2 separate regions of the Homo sapiens genome follow, and region 1 is linked to region 2. The links come from fine-mapping of genetic effects on gene expression. A gene starts in region 2. The other region holds a variant in brackets. All regions are shown on one strand. Distances are between the middles of the regions.

Region 1 (4,409 bases), 27 kb after region 2:
CAAAATAGTAAGTCTATGTTGAAACAGGAAAATATGAGGTGAAAATTCCCTTGTTTTTCTTTAAGAAAACTTTTACATAAGAAATGGAGGCTCATAAAAAATAATTTATACTCTAGCAATTTTTACCTTAATTACTCTTATCTGGGCTTATTGTTTCCAGACTTGTCTTACTACATCTCACTTTCACATAGCTACTGAAATAATCTTTCCTAAATGCAAAGCTGTCAATCCTCTGTCTGAAAACCTTATACTGGCTCTCTGTAGGGTTCCAAATCAAACCTGAGCCTTTAAGCAGAACAGATAATATGGCTGTATATGAGATTGTAAAATTATTTTGTCATCCCAATATCTTATGACTGTATTATCCCCAACAGGCTTTCCTAGTATGATAGAAAATGATACCCGTGTAATTGTTCTGTGTTCTGCTTACAGAGGCAGTAGGGAGACAAACAGGGAAAGAAGCATTAAGCTCTATGTCCAGTACCGTTTGGAATTAGAAAATTGAAATCTGGAAATTTTTGTTAAAAAGGTAGGTCTTTAGGAACTTGAGTCTTTAAGAAGGAAAGAGGATGCCTATAGGAAGGCAATTTGATATAGAGTCTTGGGAGCAAAGTTATACCTAATAGGACTCTCCTATTTTCTGTAGGAATGGATACCCCAGAATCTCAACCAGAAGCTCCACTAGTTGTCCTGACATTCCTTTATTCTTAAGAGCCTGTCCTGATGCCACTAAATACAATACAAACCTAGATTAGAATTTAGCTCAGAAAATAGTAGAGTTGTGAAAGAGTCATAGAGCTAGTGGGCCAGACACAATTTGACAGATTTAGTCCAGGTGTTTGTTATCTTACGGCAATCTCTAATTGTAGGACAAACACTCACCAAAGCCCTCCATCCCTAAGTTATGGTCCTTTCCTCTACCTCATGTGTTGTCACAATCTCAACAAAATTTCCACAAGTCCTTCTTTAAAGTCCAATAGGAAATAATATGGTTCTGTGAAAATTGTCCCCCAATATCTAGTAAACAAAGTCATTCACTCATATCTCAAAGTAGAAAGTCCACCCATCAGTCCATAGCTACCTCTTCCAGAAACCAACAGAGCCACCTCCTCTTTTCCAAATGTCTCCATCTTCATTGCTCTGCAGCCCAATAAGTAGGAAGGTTGTAACCACAGCCACACCTCTAAGCATCACAGGGAATTGCTAAGTGGGAGAAAGGCTTTCTTCTAAAGGGCTCTTTCCTGGGGGGCTTAGGGAAAAGCAACTCTATGCCCCATGAGACTAATTAGGAAAACACTTGCTGACACACTCCCCTTTCATGAGGTCAACACACCTATGGGAAGCTAGGTTTTTCAGTCAGGCTAGAAATCAGATGAAAAGAGTACTTGGCTTTCCATTCTGTCCAAGGGGTAAAAGAATAGTTTAAATTACAAAATCTGCTGAGAAAGGGAAAGGATAAGGAACAAAAGGAATGAAACTAACGCAATGTGGTTCAAAGGCAGGAGAATTTTCTCTACTCTTTGGAGCAGTTTAGTGATCACACAGCACAACCCTGAAGTGTATTGCAGAAGATTCAGCCAGCTGCCATCCAGCACAGCTTAGTAGAATTTCTTCAGAAGGATCCAGGGATCACAGGGCCATTTGCAGTAGTGGCAGTAATGAGGGGGCTCTCATGAGATTTCATGGGTTTCAGGGGTTCCAGCAGCAGATATCCCAAGTGTATGGAGTCAGGAAAGGATTGAAGGGCAACCTTTCCTGCTACATGAAAGCTGTATTGATGAGCACACATGAGCTAGACCTTGGACAGACCTGAGGAAAAAAAAAAAAAGGGCCCTCATATAGAGGACAGGAAATAGAAGCAGAAGGATACTTTTCTAATTCTTTTTTTCCTACTTTTTAAAAACTGAAATTGGACTTAATATTAACCTCCAGGTGGGTAAAGGCAGAAGAAATAGACATATACAACACATAAGATTTTTTTCTTCTATCACAAAAAGAGATATAAAACAATCACGAAGTGTTAAATGTTTAGTGGAACAGTAGCAGTGGATATAGAAATGCAACAGAATTTGAAAGCATATTTGAAATTAGAAAAAAAAAACTTATGAGACACAGGCATATATGGTGCGAAAAATGAGTCAGAGCAGAGGTGACTTTCGACTCTGAATGATTAGATTTTTAATAGGCGATTTTTAAGGCAGATCCTTGAGTGGAGGCAGGGGGACTGATTGAGGCCATGACTTCGAGGCTGCAGTGCAC[C/T]GTGATCGCCCCTGTAAGCAGCCACTGCACTTCAACCGGAGCAATAGAGTGAGATTCTGTCTCTAAAAAATAAAAATAAAAAACAATAACAATAAATAAAGACAGTCCCTCAATAAGCATTCGATTAAGGAATATGTAGCTAAATAAACGAATAATTAAATGAATCGGCGAATAGCTAAAGAATCAGATAGTGACTCAAAGATAGTCTAATTTGTAGCCACACTGATGTTTACTTTTTGACCCTGATTTTATCCAGTCTTACCACTTAAGATAAATTCCTCCTCTTACGCTTTGAACCTATTTATCTCATCTCATGCAGAGACACTGTTCCTTCAGTTGTCTCACTTACCTATGTATCCTCCAAATTTTCCTCTTTTTAGTCTGCTTATATAGCTTATGAATATGCTCAAACATATTAAAGTATATACTCTTTCTCATTTTCATTGTTGCTCTAAGTCTGCCATACTGCCTTTCTTCTTCCCGATCTTATTTTCCTAAAAGCATAGTTTACTCTTTTATCAGTATTTCTGTCTCCACCTTTTCACTTCTTGTTCACATGAACCTACAACCCCACTTAAGAGATAGAATATTATGAATAACTTTGAAGACCACTACACTTTCCTCCCCAATCCAGTTCTTTATTGCCATATTACATATTACCATTCACCTGAATTTTGTGTTTATTATTCTATTTAGCACATGTGTGCACACTCAAAAACAATATACTGTTTAGTTCTGTTTTACTCTATGTAAATAGAATGGTATTTTAGGCATTACTTTATAATTTGCTTATTCACTCAACATATGTTTTGAGAATCATTCACATCAATGTATCTAGCTGCAACTTTAAAAGAAAATCCCTGCTGTCTTGTATAAATGGAGCACAATTTAATCATTCATTAGCCTTCAACGTTTTGTATTCTGGAATATTTGCATCTTCAACTTCACTAGATGCTGCCAAATTGTTTTTCAGAATCTGTCTACCACCAACAATAAATGCATTTTTATTGTTGCACATCTTTTCTAATGTTCTGGGTGGTCATATTTTTGCTACTCAGTTGTTGTGTAAACAATATGCTATTGCTTTGATTTGCAGTTGAATGTTGTATGTGTGTATGTGTGAGTGTGTGTGTGTGTGTGTGTGTACTCCTCATTTGGTTGTTTATCTTTTTCTTATTACTTTGTAGAAGCTTTTTGTATATTCTAAATAAAAATAATCAGTTATAAACGTTATTACAAATACAGACTCCTAGTGTATATCTTGTTGTTTTTCTTTTTAATGATGCTATTTGATGAAACGAACTATTAAATAGTTTTATTCATCAGTCTTTAAATTTATGGTTTATATTTATATGGAATTGAAAAATTTTAACTAAAGTTCCAATACAATTGATTAAACAATGCACCTTTTTCCACAGACCTGTTGTGCTGGCTATGTTCATCTTTTCCCCAGTGGTCTGCTATACCTACTCTCACGTATGTTAAAATCCCATACTATATTAGTCTATTTCTTTGCTTCCATTGGCTGTTTACTCCCACTGCTATTTTATTACAAATATTGCTTCATAATAACTTTTACTAAATAGACAAGTGGCACCATTTTAATCTCCTCCTTTGAAATGTCTTCTTCTTGGCCCTCATTCTTACATATCCCACTCCTCTCTACTCAAAATGAGATTTTGATTGAAATTGGGTTGAAATGATTGACTTGTAGATGATTGGCATGTTTATGTAACTGAGACATTCTATTCATTCATACAGCATATGGATCAATTTATTTATGTTTTTGATATAGTCCAATACAGTTTTATAAAGTGCTATGTTTAGATGTAACATATCTTTTACAGTTTTTTATTTTTGTTGATACTTCAAATGGCATCTTTTTATTACACTTTTTGTCAACTGTTACATATAATAATGCAATGTTAAATATATCCATTTGTATCTATGCACTTGCTGAACTTTGTGTTATAATTTGTCTTTATTTTCATTTGGAAATTTTATATCATCTTTAACTAATTTCATTCTTTCTTCTTTATGGTCTTAATGCTGTGTGTTTCTTTTTCTTATTTTCAAAGTTTTACTTTTTATGATGGACACCCATTTTTAAATATATATCTCTTTATATAGGTATATATACATACCTATGT
Region 2 (4,409 bases):
TTCCCTACCCGACTGGGCCATTGTGCACATGCTCTTTGAAAATCTCTGTTCTAACGTGTTACAATGTAAACCTGAAGTTGACATTGAAATCCTGTCTATTGTTACCTATATGTCTTTTGGAAAATTACTTAATACCTCAGAGTATCAGGTAATCATTTGCAAAATGGGATTAAAAATAGTACCTATCTAACAAGGATGCTGTAGGATTTAGTAAATACTTGCAGAAAGATTTGGACAGTGTTTAATAGGCAACTTCTGGAAAGAGTGATACAATCTACCTCTCTGCATTTCTTGTTCTCCTTTAACACTGCTGTGTGCTTCCTCCCGAGCATTATGCTGATACTATACTGATCACGTTCATCAATGCCCTGCTAATTACTAATGGAAACTATCCAGTCATCTCTGGCACTCGACACTTTTCATTACTCCTGCTTGAGACTTTGTTCCTCTGTTTCCACGATTCCATTCTCAAGGGACGTGACGCCCAGATAGCTTTAAAGGCAGTTCTAGCTTTGACTTTTGCTTCTGTTTTATTTATTTTATTTATATTTTCTTTCTTATTCTGCCTCTTCTCTCTTATATTAGCTTGTGTTGTCTTTCTTAAATTCTTTCCCAAGAGTCTATTTTCCCCAGGTTCCTATCATCCACTTCAACCTCTTATAGTTTTATACACTCCCTTAGTGATCTCATCCGCTTACAGGATTTAAACTATTAATACTTCTAAATGTTTTTCTCTAACCAATCTCTCTTTCATAAGCTTCACACCAACTATCTGACTCTTAACTCTCTGTAGCTTCACCTGCTAACATTCTCCGACTCCTCTCTCCCCTGCAATCCCATTGTTCATGTTGCTTTCTAAAATCACAGTTCTCTCCTGTTTGTGCTACTTCCTCTGACTTTAAAGTAACATATCTCTCCCTCCTCTGCCCCCTCTCCTCACACAAAAGCAATATATACTGCTGGTTAAAAGTCTAGATGCCAGAAAAAAAATTGCTAGCATTTAAATTCTCTTTATGGCTTACCAGCTCTGTGACTTAACATGAAGTTACTTAGCTTCTCTATGCCTTTAATATCTCATTTGTAAAACTGAGAAAATATTAATACTGGTTAATGAAGTCCTGAGAATAACTAAACATTTTATAATAACAATAGAATTGTACAGTATAGTATACGGTATTATTACGTCACTAATGCTGGCACTATTCCAAGCACATTGTATATATTTTTCACCTCATGCTCTTAATGCTCTAATGAGGTGAAATGATTATCCCCATTTTACAGAGGAGAAAACTTAGGCACAGACAGGTTAAGTTCTTTGTCCAGAAATTCTCGGCTAATGCAGGGCAAAGTCAGAATTTAAATCTATGCACTGTATCTCTAGAGACACATTCTAACCTACATACAGTTGACTGCCTCTACCAATACATGTAAATGTATTTTAAAACCTTAGTGTTAGGAATATAGGAAACACTTGGAAGTGTTGAATGCCATTATGCTTTATTGAAGCGTTTGTCAGGATCCATCATCAACTTACTTGTTTTACCTTCTCTAGACTATAGGTTTCTCCTTCAGGACAGTGAATGTCTTTTATCCCTCATAGTGACTACAACAGGGTTAATATGTAGAGACGGTAGGTATCAAATAAATTAACTTGGAACTCAGCCACTTGGTACAATTATAACTAAGTGCACAAGACAGCCATGAGTAAGTGAACAAAGAAAATTGGGGACTGTTTGAAAAGGGAACTATGACAATTCAGTTCTAATGAGAGCCTCAATCAAGTCTTGACTAGATGATCTCTCAGAAAATGGCATTATAAATGTGGCATGCTGTTTCATATATACCCATGCCCAGAACCACACTGAACAGAGCTTCCTCCTGTAAATACCTTTGCCTTCCACCCTTATTCAAAGTTCTAAATTCTTTAATAATCAGGTCTTCAGGTTATGAGATGATGATGATGATGATGATTATGCATGGTGAATGAATTCGGTCTCTTTATGACTTAGTCATCTACACTCACCTTTGCCAAAAACACAGGGACTCCTCAGTCTGCCTGGGTCACTGCATCCTTAATATTACTTCAGCCTTTTCAAAAAGGGATTTATAGTCTCTCCATAGGGCATCCAGGGAATAACAGGAAAGGGAACTGGGCTCTGTGGAGGATTCTTCCCCTCCACTGCACTGAAGTGAATCACCTTCTCTCATGGGGTTAATTAACAGAAAGTTTCCCCTCTTACTCTCCTTTTGTTAGATTTTCAGATCGAAGTTGTCAATAAATATATATATTTTTCCTGATTGTACTCATCTTCCCAAATTTGTAAGCTTCCTTCTCTAGCACTTTCATGATTGTCTCAGCTGTTCTTGAGTGTACCAGTGTACTATGCAAAGGGTAGTTTTGACATGATCCTGGCCTTCTTATATGAACACACAGATTTGGAAAGCCTGGAAGGAATATACTGACACCAGAAGATCATCTTGAAAAGCTATTTTACAGAAAATAAGGCCATTTCATAATAAACATGGCACTGGGGATTTAGTGCCAATACTGAAGAAAGTGAGGAAACCATGTCTTTTTTTGTTTTTCTCATGTCGTGAGTGTGTATGGGTCTTTCCTACCTTGAACAACTCACACTGGTTCTGCTGACTTCTTTATTGAAGATCAATATCTCATCTTTTCTACAAGAGTATTATTTATATCTGTGCTTCATCCACTGATCTGTTGAAATTGCAAAGTTCTCATTTTTTTCAAAGTTAATTACTTTTATCATGTCATCTTCTTCTGGAAATATGTATCAAGTTCTCAAATAGGAAGACGTGCTTTCTGAGTTTTGTCTAACTTTTCTTCTTACGATTTGGGAGCCTATTTTGGTTGTCTAACTTGTAGGTTTTTTTTAATTCAAAAATGTCAACAGGCCACATTGTATTTCCAATGATTTTGTATAATATAAAACAGTCTGTTTTGATCCCATGACTCAAGTATTCTCAAGCTCAGAAATATTTTCCTTTAATTTTACTTATTATTTTCCTCTGTTTTGTTTTTTTTCTAGAATTTTCATAATCATATTTTGCTCTGTAATATCTATTAATACATTCTCCATATATAACTTTTTCTCTTTGCATGTAATATTTGGCTCTTCATGTGGCTTCTCTAAATTCTGGGACATATCTTCCAGGCAATCTTACAAAACATTAATTTAATTTCCTGTAGTATTTAATATATTCTTCAATATCTCCATTGTATATTAAATTTTGTATTTTTTATTTCTCAACTTTTTTTCTGATATCTTCACAAATCTCATCAAAATTTTAAATAGGAAACATTTTAATGATTTGTGTCTTAGAGTTAGTCTATGTAATGAAAGAGCATTTACTTTCAATTCCCTAACCTCTCTGTCTCTCTCAGTCTCTCTCTCTCTCTTTAACTGTAGTAATCCAACTACTTATTGGGCTATGCATTTGACAAAGTTAATGATTTTAATACAAACGGTGTATGGCAAAACTAAAATCATTGTTTTAAAGAAGGCAATCTGTGTTTGTCTGTGTGTGTGAGAGAGAAGGAGAGAATATATTTGGATACAAAAAATAAGAATATTAAATATCTAAATATGCACAGCAAATATGGAAATATCTGCCACGAAGTTCAGTATTAGTTATAGATTATTGCTTTGTGCTAAAAAGTTGTGCTTTTTTGTTTTGTTTTAGTAGCCTCAGTTTACCTGGATAGTTCCTCACTTCTCTGGCTTGTAAATTTAAGATTTACTTTTCATGTCCTTCTCTGAACACAGCTCAGTGGATAACTCCATTGTGACTGGGAAATTTCATACATTCTTTGGCTCCATTCTCTCTATCCAGATTTCCCAAGTAGAGCATCGTTCTCAATTTCTGTTTTTCCAAGCTTTAATTATTTTTTCCATCGGTTGTATGTGGAATTTCATCCAGTTAATTTCTAGGCTCTCCTCTTCTGTTTTCTTGTCCAACACCGGGCAGATAAGTATTTCCCTCAGTCGGATCTCATGTACTCATACCTGAGGAAGTGTTTTAACTTTGGAGGTCAATTGTGGGAACTCTTTTCCCCAGGATATATAATGCTTTGGTTTAACTTAATTTTGATTTTTGTTTTTTGCTGTTAAATTTTCAATATATATTTTTGTTCATTCCTGGACTATCCAATAAACAGAATCAACTGGTGCTTTTGATATAAACAGAAATTATTTTCTTTTCTAGAAAAAAGAAAGTGGTATATAATATTTCAGAGTACTGACATAGCTATCATGAAGGTTTTTAGGTAAACTTATAGATATTTTAATGTTCATTACTATATCTTTACACTTTTCAGTTCTTAGGTCATCTAACAGTTCATCTAGTCCTGACTCTTTTATTTCTATTGAGTTTTTTGTGGAAGAAAA

What was found. PIP is the estimated chance that this variant, and not a neighbour inherited with it, causes the effect.
Region 1: its variant is fine-mapped to the expression of OR6K3 in lung (TOPMed, PIP 0.96).

The regions. Positions count from the first base shown.
Region 1 is chr1:158,745,579-158,749,987 of GRCh38, forward strand. No RefSeq gene overlaps it. Among named protein-coding and RNA genes, the nearest start is that of OR6K6, 6.9 kb to the right of the region's middle. The variant C/T (reference allele first, on the strand shown) is at 2,260.
Region 2 is chr1:158,718,660-158,723,068 of GRCh38, forward strand. It overlaps OR6K3 (olfactory receptor family 6 subfamily K member 3), which reads right to left and starts at 2,061. Exons shown (of 2, transcript NM_001005327.3): 1 at 2,024-2,061.